2 separate regions of the Homo sapiens genome follow, and region 2 is linked to region 1. The links come from fine-mapping of genetic effects on gene expression. Tissue or cell type: monocytes after Pam3CSK4. Region 1 holds a variant in brackets; the other region holds the start of a gene. All regions are shown on one strand. Distances are between the middles of the regions.

The links. PIP is the estimated chance that this variant, and not a neighbour inherited with it, causes the effect.
Region 2: SNHG7 starts here. The variant in region 1 is fine-mapped to the expression of SNHG7 in monocytes after Pam3CSK4 (Quach 2016, PIP 0.95).

Annotation. Positions count from the first base shown.
Region 1 is chr9:137,231,739-137,239,738 of GRCh38, forward strand. It overlaps SLC34A3 (solute carrier family 34 member 3), which reads left to right. Exons shown (of 13, transcript NM_001177316.2): 2 at 1-49; 3 at 334-423; 4 at 837-965; 5 at 1,046-1,189; 6 at 1,266-1,377; 7 at 1,471-1,666; 8 at 1,895-1,984; 9 at 2,125-2,203; 10 at 2,371-2,538; 11 at 2,678-2,794; 12 at 2,869-2,993; 13 at 4,214-4,817. The coding sequence ends at 4,678. Among named protein-coding and RNA genes, the nearest start is that of SLC34A3, 4.8 kb to the left of the region's middle. RefSeq lists silencers at 4,625-4,954, 4,975-5,204. The variant G/A (reference allele first, on the strand shown) is at 3,627.
Region 2 is chr9:136,725,147-136,733,146 of GRCh38, forward strand. SNHG7 (small nucleolar RNA host gene 7) reads right to left here and starts at 3,038. Exons shown (of 5, transcript NR_024543.1): 1 at 2,735-3,038; 2 at 1,900-1,940; 3 at 1,165-1,270. It overlaps LOC124900276 (cuticle collagen 2-like), which reads right to left and starts at 3,038. Exons shown (of 5, transcript XM_047424334.1): 1 at 2,735-3,038; 2 at 1,900-1,940; 3 at 1,165-1,270. It overlaps SNORA17B (small nucleolar RNA, H/ACA box 17B), which reads right to left and starts at 1,091; the gene lies at 958-1,091. SNORA17A (small nucleolar RNA, H/ACA box 17A) reads right to left here and starts at 1,733; the gene lies at 1,601-1,733. RefSeq lists silencers at 2,786-3,465, 3,619-3,788 and enhancers at 4,236-4,385, 7,446-8,000.

The sequences.
Region 1 (8,000 bases):
CCCACTCTGGACGCGGTTGACCTAGTGGAAAAGACTCTGAGGAATGAAGGTACCAGTGGCCCCTGTGCCCCAGGCCTTCACCAGTCTGACCACCCACCCCCCAGGCACTGGGCAGAGACAGGCCAGGTTTCCTGCGGGCCTCCCGGGGAACCCACAGGGCTCATGACGCCTCCACTCAGGTCCAGCCCAGCTGGAGCCCCATCTTCCCCGTTCCGTTTCTGTCCCTCACTCCAGGCCTCTTACGCCTCAGCCCGTCCTCCGGCCTGTGCCCTTGTGCCCCCAGTTGGAGGGAGGTGGTCCTGGAAACAGCCGTACTCAATTCTACCTCCACAGGGACCTCCAGTTCTGCTCCAGTCTTGGAGGAAGGGGACACAGACCCCTGGACCCTCCCTCAGCTGAAGGACACAAGCCAGCCCTGGAAAGGTGGGTCTGGAGGTTCCGGGGGTGGCAGGCTGGCAGGCCTCTGTCCCCAACGGGACTGGGGAGACAGAGCAGGGTGGGGCCTGCCCAAACAGGCTGTGTGTGGGGAACTCCGCCATGCAGGCCCCCTCTGGGGAGACACGTGTCCCTCAACCGGGTGTCTGTGCTGTCCTGGGGCAGACCGGCCACCTCTGCCCATCCGTCCCTCCCCTCCTGCTCCTGCGAGGGAGGGTCCCAAGGGCTTCTGGCTTGGAAAGGCAGGAACCCGGGCCCTGCCCTGGGGGTTACGGAAGAGGAGGAAATGGGACCCAGCCCTGTTGGAGACAGAGGAGAGAGGGGGCAGAGAATGAGGGGCCTGGGAGGGAGACCTGTCAGGGTGGAGGGCCAGCCAGGGACAGCCTGCCCTGTGTCCTCAGAGCTCCGCGTGGCCGGCAGGCTGCGCCGCGTGGCCGGCAGCGTCCTCAAGGCCTGCGGGCTCCTCGGCAGCCTGTACTTCTTCATCTGCTCTCTGGACGTCCTCAGCTCCGCCTTCCAGCTGCTGGGCAGTGAGTGACGGGACGGGTGCCCAGGGCGGGGCGGGCAACCAGCCCTCCGCAGCTTCAGCGCACCTCTCTTGCCGGTGTAGGCAAAGTGGCCGGAGACATCTTCAAGGACAACGTGGTGCTGTCCAACCCTGTGGCTGGACTGGTCATTGGCGTGCTGGTCACAGCCCTGGTGCAGAGTTCCAGCACGTCCTCCTCCATCGTGGTCAGCATGGTGGCTGCTAAGCGTGGGTGCACACTCCCTCCCCGGGTGGTGGGGGGGGCAGGGTGGGCCGCAGGCTGACTCAGCCCCCCCACCAGCAGTGCTGACTGTCCGGGTGTCTGTGCCCATCATCATGGGTGTCAACGTAGGCACATCCATCACCAGCACCCTGGTCTCAATGGCGCAGTCAGGGGACCGGGATGAATTTCAGAGGTGAGTTGTGGGTGGAAGGGCTGGGCTGGGGCTGCAGTGGCAGCCCCAGCCCGGGCCCCCCCACCTGACCCTGCCCACTCTCTGCGGCCACAGGGCTTTCAGCGGCTCGGCGGTGCACGGGATCTTCAACTGGCTCACAGTGCTGGTCCTGCTGCCACTGGAGAGCGCCACGGCCCTGCTGGAGAGGCTAAGTGAGCTAGCCCTGGGTGCCGCCAGCCTGACACCCAGGGCGCAGGCGCCCGACATCCTCAAGGTGCTGACGAAGCCGCTCACACACCTCATCGTGCAGGTGAGGACGGCCACCGCCCCCGCCCAGAGAGCCTGAGCAGGCCGGATGGGAGGAGGGGAGGCCCGCCCTGCCCTGATGGAGGGTCAGCGGAGGGTCTGGGCCCTGTCCTGGGACAGGGGAGGAGAGGGCAGCAGTGGGCAGGGCTGGGCTGGACCCCGCGGGCGCCAGAGCCCCGGGTGAGTCCTGAGAGAGGGTGCAGCACACCGTCACGACCCCTCTGGCCCCCAGTTGGACTCCGACATGATCATGAGCAGTGCCACAGGCAACGCCACTAACAGCAGTCTCATTAAGCACTGGTGCGGCACCACGGGGCAGCCGGTGAGGCACCCAACCCTAGGCCCTCACTGACCCCCAACCTCCCACCTGCTGAGTCATCCCGCCCCACCCACCCTCACCTCGAGCCCTCTGACCTCTGTCTGCCCACTGAGCCTGTCCTGAGTCCTCCCTGCCCTCCCCAGACCCAGGAGAACAGCAGCTGTGGCGCCTTCGGCCCGTGCACAGAGAAGAACAGCACAGCCCCGGCGGACAGGCTGCCCTGTGAGGCCCGGCCCACCCCAAGCCCCCTACACCCCCCACACTCCCCCTCACCGGCCCCTACATGGAGAGGAACAGCACAGCCCCGGCGGACAGGCTGCCCTGTGAGGCCCGGCCCACCCCGGCCCACCCCCCAGGCTCCCCCTCACCTGCCCCTGCCCTGCCCCCAGGCCGCCACCTGTTTGCGGGCACGGAGCTCACGGACCTGGCCGTGGGCTGCATCCTGCTGGCCGGCTCCCTGCTGGTGCTCTGCGGCTGCCTGGTCCTCATAGTCAAGCTGCTCAACTCTGTGCTGCGCGGCCGCGTGGCCCAGGTCGTGAGGACAGTCATCAATGCGGGTGAGGGCGTGGGAGGAGGTGCGGTGGCCAGGGCTGACCCAGCATCCCCCATAGACTTCCCCTTCCCACCAGGCTGACTCGGGGGCTACCTGGCCCTCCTTGTGGGCGCTGGCCAGGGCTGACCCGGCATCCCCCACAGACTTCCCCTTCCCGCTGGGCTGGCTCGGCGGCTACCTGGCCGTCCTCGCGGGCGCCGGCCTGACCTTCGCACTGCAGAGCAGCAGCGTCTTCACGGCGGCCGTCGTGCCCCTCATGGGTGAGCAGGCAGGACAGAGGCCTCGGGAACGGGGGCTCGGGCTGGGGTCCTGTGGTGACTCCCAGTTCCCCCAGGGGTCGGGGTGATCAGTCTGGACCGGGCGTACCCCCTCTTACTGGGCTCCAACATCGGCACCACTACCACAGCCCTGCTGGCTGCCCTGGCCAGCCCCGCAGACAGGATGCTCAGCGCCCTGCAGGTACTGTCCACCCTGCCCCGCTGCCAGAACTGGCCAGCTTCCTCTCAGCCCCACAGACAGGAGTGTGTCACCAGCCCCGGGGCCCTAGGCTGGCTGTGCCCCCGCCTTCCTGGACCCCTTCCCTGGCCGCCAGCCTCAGCCCTGCTGCTCTGCCTCCTTGGACCCCACAGGTCCTGCACACATTTCACACCCTCCCTGCGTCTCCTCCCTTGAGACCTCCTCACTTCCACATTTTCTCAGCTCTTTGCTGTGTCCCTGGGGGCCTGCCCCCAGCATCTCAGGGGGCTCTAAGCCCCTCTATTCCAGCACCCTCAGATGCTTTCCCCCAACCCCTGCTCCCTCAAGGAGCAGCCACTCACCTCCAGCAGGTCCCCATCTGGACGACCCTCCCAGCCCCCATTCCACATCTGCAAAGGCCGAGTCCCACCGATGCTGGGCCCTGCCCTGCCGCTGCCAGGGCTGTGATTCTGCCTCCAGGACACTTCCCCCAGTCTGAGCCCCCAGCTCTGTGCCCCAACCCCAGTCTCATTTAGTCCAGCTGGTTCTCCCTCTAAAACAGCCCGTCTGCGGCCTGCTGCCCGGAGGCCCAACAGGTTCAGCTCCCGAAACTCCGGGTCATGCTGCACCGCCGCT[G/A]ACAGGAAGAGACAAGTGCGGCACCCCCTGGAACCCACGCTCGTTCTTCTTGCCTCTGCCCTGTCTCTATCCACTTAGACCCTCCCAGTGCAGGGTCCTGCTCCACCCCCTGCAGGAAGCCCTCCAGACTGCACCTGTGTGTGGACTCCTCCAAGTCCGGCAGCCCCTGGAGGGGCCCGTGACACTGTTCTCCCCTCCTGTGGCCCTGTGCCTCCTCCCCGCAGGGCCTGGACTGTGCAGGCTCAGCACACTGGGGACTGAGGAGACGGGGTCTCTTGGCAGGAGGCACAGGCAGAGCCAGGTCGGAAGGTGCTTCCCCCGCAGGTCCCCCTTGAGGGCAGCAGTGATGCAGTCAGTGCTCGGGGGTGCTGGGCTGGACTGCAGCTCCCAGGAGCGTGCGGGAGGCGTGCTGGGGAACATGTCCACATCTGGCCACAGCCCGCCTCCCAGACGGCCATCTCATCCGTGAAGCAGGATGAACTTCAGACTTGGCGCTCCTTCTGTAGGGTGGAGGAGGGCAGGGGTCCGGGGCCCCTGGTGACCCCACCTCGTTGGGCCCAGGCCCCTGACAGCCCCCTCGCCCCCAGGTCGCCCTCATCCACTTCTTCTTCAACCTGGCCGGCATCCTGCTGTGGTACCTGGTGCCTGCACTGCGGCTGCCCATCCCGCTGGCCAGGCACTTCGGGGTGGTGACCGCCCGTTACCGCTGGGTGGCTGGGGTCTACCTGCTGCTCGGATTCCTGCTGCTGCCCCTGGCGGCCTTCGGGCTCTCCCTGGCAGGGGGCATGGAGCTGGCCGCTGTCGGGGGTCCCCTGGTGGGGCTGGTGCTCCTCGTCATCCTGGTTACTGTCCTGCAGCGGCGCCGGCCGGCCTGGCTGCCTGTCCGCCTGCGCTCCTGGGCCTGGCTCCCCGTCTGGCTCCATTCTCTGGAGCCCTGGGACCGCCTGGTGACCCGCTGCTGCCCCTGCAACGTCTGCAGCCCCCCGAAGGCCACCACCAAAGAGGCCTACTGCTACGAGAACCCTGAGATCTTGGCCTCCCAGCAGTTGTGACGGGCAGTTGCTGAGCAGACCGCCCCACCCTCCCCGGCTGGGAGGGCTCTGGAGGGCCCTGGAGGGGGGGTCCCCGCGGCAGCTGACCTCCGGTCACCTGCTTCCCCTTCTGTGCAAATAAACCAGGCTGTTATCTGGGGTGGCGGTCCTCACTCCCCTAGACAGGGGCCGCCTGCGCAGGTGGGGGAAGCAGCCCGATGCTGCCTCCTGGTGGACACTCCGGGGCCTGGGGCTCAGGCACAGGAGCCCGCCCACCCCAAGGTGTGTTTCTCACGGCAGCCGCTGGGGACAGAAGCTCCCAAGGAATGGCGGGCCTGGGGGGGCGGGGACTTCCCACAGTGGGAGCTGGGGCCCCTCCTGGGGGCGCAGGGGAGAGCCCAGCCAGCAGGGAGCAGGGCCGGTGGTGCAGGGTGTGGGGGATCCCGGAGCTCCTCTGCCCCGGCGGATGTCATGGTTGGGGTGGGGACTGGAGTCCCATCAGGTGCGTGGGGTGTGAGAAGGGACCCTGACGGCTTGGAGGGCCAGGTGGTCCCAGAGGCACCACCTGTCTGTCTGCCCTCTGTGTCTCTCAGCCGGTCCTGGGCTGGGCCCCTCGGGGACACTTCTCTGCAGGGCTGGGCCACGGCAGGTGCTCAGCTCCCAGAACCCACCAGGAAGCCAGTCTCACCCGCCAGGCTGGGGCACACTGAGGCCTCCCACTGCCACGGAGAATGAGACCCTGTCCCGGGAAGGCCTGTCCGTGGGGTGGGCCCAGGAGGGCGGACAGCACCCATGGGGAGGACTTGGGGGCCAGGGGGCCCTCCCTCTGCTGTGTGGTCGGGTTTCCACACAGGAAGGCTTGTCTGCCAGCCAATGGGTAACTGGACACCTAGGAAGTTGAGGGGGGGCTCCTGCCACCTCTAGCCCAGAGCTGCCCACAGCCCTAACCCAACCCCCACTCCCGCCAAGGGAAGAAAGCCTTGGGTTACCCCAGAACTGGAGCATTCATTCAGGCACACAGAGACGGGTGGGTGAGGGGACGGTCCCATCAGGGACAGGTCTAGTTTGCTCATTTGAGTCTGCTGCTGTGGCCAGTCACGTTCTCCCTTCCAGAACTGCAGCCCTGTTGGGGGGCAGCTCTCTTCCCAGAGCCTCCCAGGATTGCCTGGTCAGACCCCACTAGGGGATAGAGGTGCAGCCACTCAGGAAGATGAGGCCTGAGGGGGCCCCACGGCCACTTCTCCTCTGTGGCTCTGTTCTTTTCTGCCCTCAGTTTCCCTTTGCCCCTGCTCATGACCCCCAGACCCTCTGTGCCCTTGGCCCCCAGTCTTCCCTGGGTCCTCTGCCCCAGCCACCCCTCAAACTCTTAGGCCTCCTGGGCCTTGGTTTCACCTACCGAGGGAGGTGACCACCTGCTCTGGGAGCCAGGGGTGCCTCAGGGGTGGGCTCCAGTGAGAATGGGACCCCCAGCAGCTAGAGCTTTGGTTCTCACAGCCCTGTGATTCTAGGACGCCCCTGTGGACCTGACATCAGCCTCATAGAACCGTCTGGCACCCCTGTAGGGGACAAGCCTGGCTAGCTCCCTGGGGAGCCTGAGGGGCCGGGGAGCTCCCCTGTCCTTTGGGGGGGGATCAGTGAGGCCCTTGTGGAGAGAGGGAGGAAGCACCCCATGCACCTGTCCTTCCAGGGCAGGTGAGGCCTCCCACAAAGGCTGGGCGTCTGGTCCTTTAAGGCAGCCAATACTGTCTGCCTGCTGTCCCTGCCTGGCGGTAACACACCCTCCCACTGGGACCATGGCCACCAGTAAACAGAGCCTTCGTTGTGGATCCTCCGACAGCTGCAGGAGGAGGAGGGCAGGTGCCCAGCACTCCCACAGCCACGCCTGCCCCGCTTCCCTGCCCTTCTGGCCCTCCTTGGACCACATCCTGCCTGGCCACAGACCCCAGGCCCAGGAGTTGGTCCTCCTGCCCCACACTATCCCGCCTCTCCATCCTGCAGCAGGGCACCTTGGCTCAGGGTGGGACCTACAGAGCCTTCCCCAACCAGTTTTGTGCAACAGGGGTGGCTGCTGTCCTTGTTGGGCTCAGGCCCAGGCTTCAGGGTGTCTACTGCTGTCTTGTCCCCAGCCAGTGTCCACCTCACCAGGGCAATGCAAGGGCAAAGTAGGCAAGCTGGTGCCATGGCGAGCTCTGGGGCTCTCACCTGGGCAGGTGACACCTGTGAAACGGGTGGCACACTGACCTCCCAGCCCTGTGGGCACTGGTCACAGGAAGCAGGGGCCTTTACTGGAGAGGGGTTGGGAGACTCTGACAAGGTGCAGGAATGCCACACACCTCAAAGAGCAGCCTCAGTTGGGCTCTGCACAGTTCACTGAGGAAAAAAACAGAGCTTCTCCTTCTCCCCTTTGTGACAACTCAATGTTATGAGACTCCAACATGTCCCTGACTACTGCCTGGACAGCTGAGCTACTCTGCAGGACCCCAGGATGCCCTGGGCACTAGGAGAAACCTGGGATGGCTGGCAGCAACCTGTGCACCCCTCAGGCCGCTGCAGGACCCCAGTCCCTCTGAGGGTCAAGGCCTGTGTCACAGTGGTCACTGGAAGCCAGGCCCGCCTTCCTGGGCTGATCTGTGGGGGAGGCCACCCTCCTGGACAGGATGGCAAACTGGCAACAGACCCCCGAGGAGTGAGCACAGCTGCAGGCCCTCGCCCCAGAAGGACAATGCTGATCCCCGCGCATGCTCCGGTGCTGCGTGTCCCGAGTTCTGGTATCGCGCATTATGTGGTGAAGACAGAGGTGCAGTCCCTCCAGGAAGAGAGAAATAAATAAGCAGATGTTGTTTCCAACAGCCTCCAATTGGGAGACAGATGCCCAGTGGCCAGAGCACAGGAGACTGTCAGGGCCGACCTGATGGTGTAATTTATTTAAAATGCTACAAAAATACAGCCAGGTGCAGTGGCTCATGCCTGTAATCCCAGCACTTTGGGAGGCCGAGGCGAATGAATCACAAGGTCAGTTCCAGACCAGCCTGGCCAAGATGGTGAAACCCCATCTCTATTAAAAATACAGAAATTAGCCGGGCGTGGTGGCGGGCGCCTGTAATCCCAGCTACTCGGGAGGCTGAGGCAGGAGAATCGCTTGAACCCGGGAGATGGAGGTTGCAGTGAGCCGAGATCATGCCACTGCACTCCAGCCTGAGCGACGGAGCCAGACTCTGTCTCAAAAAAAAAAAAAAAAAAAAATAGCCAGGCGTGGTGGTGCACACCTGTAGTTCCAGCTACTTGGGAAGGTGAGGCAGGCGAATTGCTTGAACCGGGGAGGCAGAGGTTGCAGCGAGCTGAG
Region 2 (8,000 bases), 510 kb before region 1:
TTCTTTAACCCGGATTCACCAAATGACCCTCAGGGAACCCAATTTATGAAATCCCGAAACTGTACTTTTTTTTTTTTTTTTTTTTTTGAGACAGAGTCCCACTCTGTTGTCCAGGCTGGAGTGCAGTGGTGCGATCTCGGCTCACTGCAACCTCTGCCTCCCGGGTTCAAGCGATTCTCCTGCCTCAGCCTCCCAAATAGCTGGGATTACAGGCTTGCGCCACCACACCTGGCTAATTTTTGTATTTTTAGTAGAGATGGGGTTTCAGGCAGTTGGCCAGGCTGGTCTCGAACTCCTGACCTCAGGTGATCCACATGCATTGGCCTCCCAGAGTGCTGGGATTACAGGCCTGAGCCACCGCGCCAGGCCTCCAGAAAGTGTATTTTGAAGTTATCTTTCTTGATACTGTCTCTTAGCAGGAGTCTGACACTGGCACTGCTGACATTTGGGCCACATCACTCTTCACTACGGGGCGTCCCAGGCACTGCAGGACATGCAGCTGCGTCTTTGGCCTCTGTACCCCCATTGCTACCCATTTTGGGGAGAGGATTCCTGTTTCCAAAGTGACCCAGACACATCTCTGGGCAAGGCAGCTCCTGACCCCTACCCAGGGCCCTTCCTTTGTGCACAGGAGTTGCAGCCCCGCCCCCGCCCCCCTGGGATGACTAGTGCTGGACAAGGAACAGCCTGTTTATCCAGCTCGACTGTTCTTAATCAAACTTGCCTAAGGCCTCCCAGACAGACCTACAGAATCGTTTCCAGAACGAGGCCTGGGAGTGAGACGCACACTCCTGGTAACCCCACAAGTGCCCGAGCTTCAGATACACACACAGCTCATTTATACATATCTACACCTCAGGGTTCCCAGCGATGTTGCTGCCCCTCCCTCATGGAGCAAACCAGGTAAGGTGGTTTCCAAAAGCGAAAATCCAAATGCTGCCTGGCTTTGGTTGCAAGTAATGTCAGGCCATAAACCATTCTCAGTGCCCACTGGTTCCCGAGCACTGAGTGTAGAAATCGCCACTTTCTCTTTGCCCCGAGGCCACAGGCACAGCAGAGCAACTGTCTGTGGTGCCAACAGGTCCAGGACAGCATCCGCAGGGCAGCCGCTCACACGCACCCGGCAGGCAGGGAAGGAGGGCAAGCCTCCGCCTCACCTCTTACCTGGATCAGGGCTGGTGCTGGTCAGCCTGGTCACTCTGGCCAGTGCTCACACTGGAAGTCCATCACAGGCGAAGTCACCTCCTTCCCGTGTTAAATAACAAGAATGCTTGGCAAAGAATCAAGAACACAAGCGGCTGCCGTTACTGCTATTAACCGAGACGCCAGCAAACCCTTCCCCAGTCCTGTCCTGCGTGATCCTGACACGGTGTACGGCATGATCCAGCGCGTACCTCACCTGACCTGACCGATCCTCACAGGTTCTTAAAACTCACTCATGAAGGCTGCTCCTGGTGAAGGCACCCTCCACCTTCCCACTATCCCTTCAGACCCCTAGAGGCCAGCCTAGCCCAGCGCGAGAGTTAGAAAGCCCACTCACAGGGCCCACCCTCTCTCCCAGATACCAGCGAAGGAAAACAGATGCCTGTCCACAAAACAGGAGTGTGAGACTATCAAACATTCAAACGTTCACGGGGCAGAACGCTGAGCGTAGACATAGCCTCTCTAATCTCTGCCACCTAATGACACAGATGTGACACGGCAGCCACAGCTGCAACGCCTCTAGGGGCAGTGTCCTGTTGAAGACTAAATAATCCGTTTTTACTCCCCTGGAGACAGCTTCTAGCCTCAATGTGAACACAAGACCGACTGGTCCCTCCAGTCACTTAAGATGTTGCACAGGAGGGCTTAGTTACATTGGAGGATTGACCCTGTTCCAGCTCCAATGCACCAACTTACCCAACACCCCACGCACGTGTCATCTCCAGTGAGCAGACGTCCTAGAGAAAAAAAGAAACCGCAATTTTGTATAAATCTTGCAAACACCACAGAGGAGCATCACATAAACACTGCGTTTTTTGGGAGGCCGAGGCGGGCAGATCACTTGAGGTCAGGAGTTCAAAACCAGCCTGGCCAACACGGTGAAACCCGTCTCTCTAAAAAAAAAAAAAAAAAAAGTTAGCTGGCCTAGTGGCTGGCGCCTGTAATCCCAGCTACTCTGGAGGCTGAAGCAGGAAAGTCGCTTGAACCCAGGAGGCAGAGGTGGTAGTGAGCTGAGATCGCGCCACTGCACTCCAGCCTGGGCAACTGAGACTCTGTCTCGAAAAGAAAAAGACTGCGTTTTGCTGCATCTGGTCTCCAGGAAGGCGGACCAAAGAAGCTCCCTGCCACCAAAAAGCTCACTGTCACAAGGGCCGTTCTAGAAAAATCCGACCCATGTTACTCTCTCCCCTTACTCTACGCTTAATTTGCGGGAGGGGAAGTTGGAGTTACAACACAGTGGCCACGAAACGCGGGCTGCTGATCCCCTGCAGGTATCAAGGGACCAGGACCACGAGGCGGAATGCCCACCAGACAACCGAGCAGTCCTCCTCCCGCCAGAACAGCCTCCCGCTGAGCAGCCACAGTGACAAGGAAACCACCTGACGCAGCATAAGAAATCAATTTTTCAAAGATGCCGACAAACATCTTCCCACAGCCTGAGCGACTCAGGGAAGCAGCGGCAGGAGCGGAAGGGTCGTGGGTGAACGGGGTGCCTTTCTCTAAGATCCGAATTCGCGCACTCAGCTCTCACCAGGCTTCCCGAAGCTTCCTGGCTGGAAACCGCGCAGGGCCGGCAGCGCCCTCTCCACCAAGGGACACACCAGCGGCGCCTCCTCCGCGGCCCGGGCCCCCATCCCGCGGCTCGCGCGGCCAGGACGCCCCAGGTCGGAGCCTGCCCCCACCCCGCACCCGGAGGCCAGCAGCCCAGTCCCCTAGGCCGCGCAGCGCCAGCGAGAGCGAGGCTGCAGGGCGAGGCCCGGTGAGGCGCTCGAGAACTGGCCGGGAGGAGAAGTCAGGCGGCCCACCCGCCACGGCAGCCTCCGGCGCACGCAGAGGACGAGAAGGGAAGCGCCGCGCCTTTTATAGCGCGTACGGCGGCCCGCAAGAGTCAATCCGCCCCGCCCAAGCAGCGCCCCCCAGCGGTCCCCGGCCGTTCAGCTCCCCGCGCCCGCACGTGGGCGCTGCTCAGTGGCTGGCGGGCGGGCGTGTGGGTTCGCCACGCAGAGCAGCGGCAGCGCCGTGACCCGTGTCCTGCACCGCGACCGCCCCACGGGGCCAGCAGCCAGGGCCGCGCCGTTTCCGACCCGCCGGGTGCCGGGCACGCCACGGACACGCGCGGCTCCCCGTTTTCGCGGAGGATTCCCAGGCCGGGTCAGGAGGACGCTCCACGAGCCCGTGGGTCCCGGTGGTCCCAGCCATTGGGGCGGCTCCCGTGACTGTCGAGCAGCGCCCACCCCGGGCAGCATGGGGCTCCCGCGACGCGCTCCGTCCCTTCCCCACCAGGGGCTCTGCCGGTGTCGGCCATGGGCGCGGGTACACACCAGGCGCCTAATGAGTGCTGAGGCGGGCGAGGGTCCCGGCAGGCGGGATTACCGCGGCCAGGCCTGACTAGCGCCCTGTCTGCGCTGTGTCCTGGGACCTCGGTCACCGCGCAGGGCGGGACACCGAGGCCTCGCGGCCAAGCGACTCGCCGCGGTCGCCGGGCTGCGAACGGTGGAGCCGCCGGGACTCGGACCAGGACGCGAGCTCCAGAGCAGGGGATGACAGGCCTGAGCCGCAGGGGCCGGGAGGAAGGCCGCGCTGCTGTCCTGGGGCTGGGCAGCCTCCGCATTGCACAGCGCAGACCGCTCTAGCCTTAGGCCTGGAGGGGACACCAGGAGATGAGGCTTCTGGCTCAGCCTGCTCTCTGCAGCCACAGGCAAAGGCCAGGAAGGCCGGGGTGCGGGAGCTGGCATAGGAGCTGGCTCCAGCTCGGGTACTGGCTTAGAGGGAGCAGGAGCTGGTGATAAATTCAACTCAAATTTTCATTGCCTTTGCAAAGCCAGAAAACACCCCAGGGCTCCTAAGAAAAGCCCCAGCGCAGGACCCCAGGACACTTTGCAACTGGGCTGCAACTGCGCGGTCTGAGGCTCCTCCCTGTGTGGCCCCACCAGCAGGCTGGGTTCTAGCTCTGGTGTTGGGGCTGGAGCTGGCACCACAGCAGGCTCCACCTCCAGAGATGGTGCAGGCTCTGTCCTAGCACTGACACGGTTGTTGGAGACAAGCTGGCTCTGCCCCGGGGACCGATGCTCTGGAGCTGCCTCTAGCTGTGTTGCTGTTGCTAGTCTTTGCCCTGGGAAAAGTGTCAGAGCTGGTCCTAGCTCTGGATATGGTGCTAGAGCTGGTTCTTGATTGGATTTCGCTCTAGAGCTGGCAGGAACTCTGGCTCTCGTTCTGAAGCTGGTGCAGGTCTGAGATGGCTGTAGCTCTGGAGCTGCCTCTAATTCTGGTTCTGGTTGTGGAATCAGCCATCGCTTTATATCTGGTGCCAGCTCTGGCTCTGGAGGTGGTGCTGCAGCTGGCCCTTCCTCTGAACCTGGCACTGGCTTGAGGTCTACACCTGGAACTGGCTGAAACTCTGGAAGTGGTTTTGGAGCCGGTGCCCGAGCAGTCACCGGAGGTGGCACCAGATTTGGTGATAGAGCTGCCTCTGTTTCTGGAGTAGGTGGTAGAGCTGGTGCGGCAGCTGGAGTGAGATCTGGAGTTGTGCTGGCTGTGGCCATAGTTCTTGAGCTGGTACAGGAACCCGCACTGGTGTGAGCCGCGGTGCTGAAGCTGGGCCTGTAGCTGATGCTGGCCCTGGCTCTTTTTCTGAACCTGATGCTGATATTTGGCCCTAACCATGCAAATGGTTTTGGAACTGGTCCTGGCTAGAGGGCGGATGCTGGAGCTATAGTGGAGCCGGCACAGAAGTGACCAGAGCTGCCCCTGTCTCTGGGTGTGCTGCTGGAGCTGTTGCTGGAGCTGGCTCTGATCCTGGAACTAGCACCCGAGTTGTAGCCGGAGCTGGCTCTACCTTCTGAGCTGGTGCAGGAGTTGGCTGTAGCTCTGTAGCTAGTGAAAGCTCTAGCTGTGGAGAGAGGGCAAGAGACATCTCCTCCTTCAGAGATACTGAGTCCATTGCACCCGACCCAGCACTTGCTCCATGCTGCGGGGTAGATCTACCAAGCACTTACTGAAACCAGTATGCATAGCCCCGGAGCAGACCATGACCTGCTGAGACCCAGGAGAGGACCTGAGCCCCAGCACCTGAGAGAGGAGCTACCCCATGACAGTGGGGTACTTAGAAGGTGGAGATGTCACATCCCCTGCCCCAGGTCACATGACAGAGGTCAGAGGGTAGGTAGATGGCACTTCTGTGCAGGTCAGCCCAGGCTAGGTGCGGTGGCTCACGCCTGTAAGGCCAACACTTTGGGAGGCTGAGGCGGGCGGATCACCTGAGGTCAGGAGTTCATGACCATCCTGGCCAACATGGTGAAACCCTGTCTCTACTAAAAATACAAAAATTAGCCGGGCATAGTGACGCAACCCTGTAATCCCAGCTACTTGGGAGGCTGAGGTGGGAGAATGGCGTGAACCCGGGAGGCGGAGTTTGCAGTGAGCCAAGATCGAGCCTTTGCACTCCAGCCTGGGCGACAGAGCGTCTCAAAAAAACAAAAAAAAAAATTCTGGAGAAGATGATGGGGGTGATGGTCGCACGACAATGTGAATGTACTTAATGCCACTGGAGTGTGCACTTAAAAATGGTTAGGGCAGGCCGGGCGCAGTGGCTCATGTCTGTAATCCCAGCACTTTGGGAGGCCGAAGTTGGGCGTATCACCTGAGGTCGGGAGTTTGAGACCATCCTGACCAACATGGAGAAACGCCATCTCTACTAAAAATACAAAATTCGCCGAGCGTGGTGGTGCATGCCCGTAATCCTGCTACCTGGGAGCTGAGGCAGGAGAATCGCTTGAACCCGGGAGGCAGAGGTTGTGGTGAGCCGAGATCCAGCCATTGCACTCCAGCCTGGGGAACAGAGCGAGACTTTGTCTCAAAAAAAAAAGGTTAAGGCCAGGCCGGGTGTGGTGGCTCACGCCTGTAATCCCAGTCCTTTGAGAGGTCAAGGTGGGCAGATTGCTTGAGGCCAGGAGTTCCAGACCAGCCTGGGCAACACGGTGAAAATTAGCTGGACAAAATTAGCCAGGCATAGTCTGTAATCCTAGCTACTCAGGTGGCTGAGGTGGGAGGATCCTTTGAGCCCAGGAGTTGGGGGCTGCAGTGACCTGTGATTGTGTCACTGCACTCCAGCCTGGATAACAGAGACAGAACCTGTCTAAAAAAAAAAAAAAGGTTAAAACGGTGAATTTTATGTTCTGTATATTTTACTGCAATAAAAAATTTAAGGAAATTATTTATTTACTGCCTTAGTTTATTTGTGCTGCTATAACAAAATACCTGGGACTGGGTAAATTATAAAGAACAGAACAGTTCTGGAGGCTGGGAGGTCTGGGAACAAGGTGAGTGTCTGGCGTCTGGTAAGGGCCTTCTTGCTCTGTCCCGTAGCAGCAGAGCAGCCTAGCAGGATGCTGCTTCAGAAGGGCCTTCATCCCATTCACACGGGAGGAGACCTCATGGCCTAATCGCCTCTTCAAAGGCCCCACCTCTTGATATGTTCACACTGGCAACATCTGAATTTTGGAGAGGACACATTCAAACCACAGAACTTACCATTCAAAACAAAATAGAAGCCCACCAGGCGCGGTGGCTCACGCCTGTAACCCCAGAACTTTGGGAGGCCAAGGTGGGTGGATCACCTGAGGTCAGGGGTTCAAGACCAGCTTGGTCAATGTAGTGAAACCCCATCTTTACAAAAATACAAAAATTAGCCAGGCATGATAGTGGGTGCCTATAATCCAAGCTACACAGGAGGCTGAGGTGGGAGAATCACTTGAACCCAGGAGGCGGAGTTTGCAGCGAGCTGAGATTGTGCCACTGCACTCTGGCCTGGGCAACAGAGTGAGACACCGTCTCAAAAAAATTTTAAAAAAATTTAAAAACCCAACCAAAGAGGCCTGGCGCAGTGGCTCACGCCTGTAATCCCAGTACTTTGGGAGGCTGAGGCGGGTGGATCACCTGAGGTCAGGAGTTCGAGACCAGCCTGGCCAACATGGGGAAACCCCATCTCTACTAAAAATGCAAAAATCAGCTGGGCATGATGGTGCGCACCTATAATCCCAGCTACTCAGGAGGCTGAGGCAGGAGAATCACTTGAACCTGGGAGGCAGAGGTTGCAGTGAGCAGATATTGTGCCACTGCATGCACTCCAGCCTGGGCGGCAGACTGAGACTCCCTCTCAAAAAAAAAAAAAAAAAAAAAACCAAAACAAACAAAACAAAAGTGACAGCAACAGACAGCCCGCAGTCTCAGAACACCCACACTCTGTGACGACTCAGAATTTCTTCCAGACTTCACGGATCACCATTCTGGATAAAACAACAAATCAACTAAACGTGGACGCCTTCCCCTCCCTGCTTTGGCTGCCTTGTGGACACAGGTTCACACCAAGGTCATTACCAAGGGTTTGCATCCCCCCCAAGCTCTCCCCCCCACCCCCCGCCACACCCCTGAGGGTTGGGACATTCTGGAATTGCTTTGTTGATTGGCGCTGATGAGGAGGGCTTTGAAGGAGCCGTGTGAACATCCTTCAGGTCAAGGCCTGGGCGAAGCTGGCCCTGAGGCTGGAAGACATTCCTGGAGAAAATGCAGGGGCTCCTGGCCCCTACACGAAGTCCAAATGCAGAGGGCTGTGAAGTGGGCGGTGGGTGTGGGAGTGGGAAGGTGGAGGTGTCACGCCCCTGCCCCAGGTCACGTGACAGAGGTGGAAGGGTAAGTACAAGTCAGAGTACCCAGTGGAGCCCTGCAGGGCTGCTGGCGAGTGCTGCTGGGGCTGCAGAGTGTGTGAAGCCAGGCACCCCAGGACGTTTTGGGCATGAACA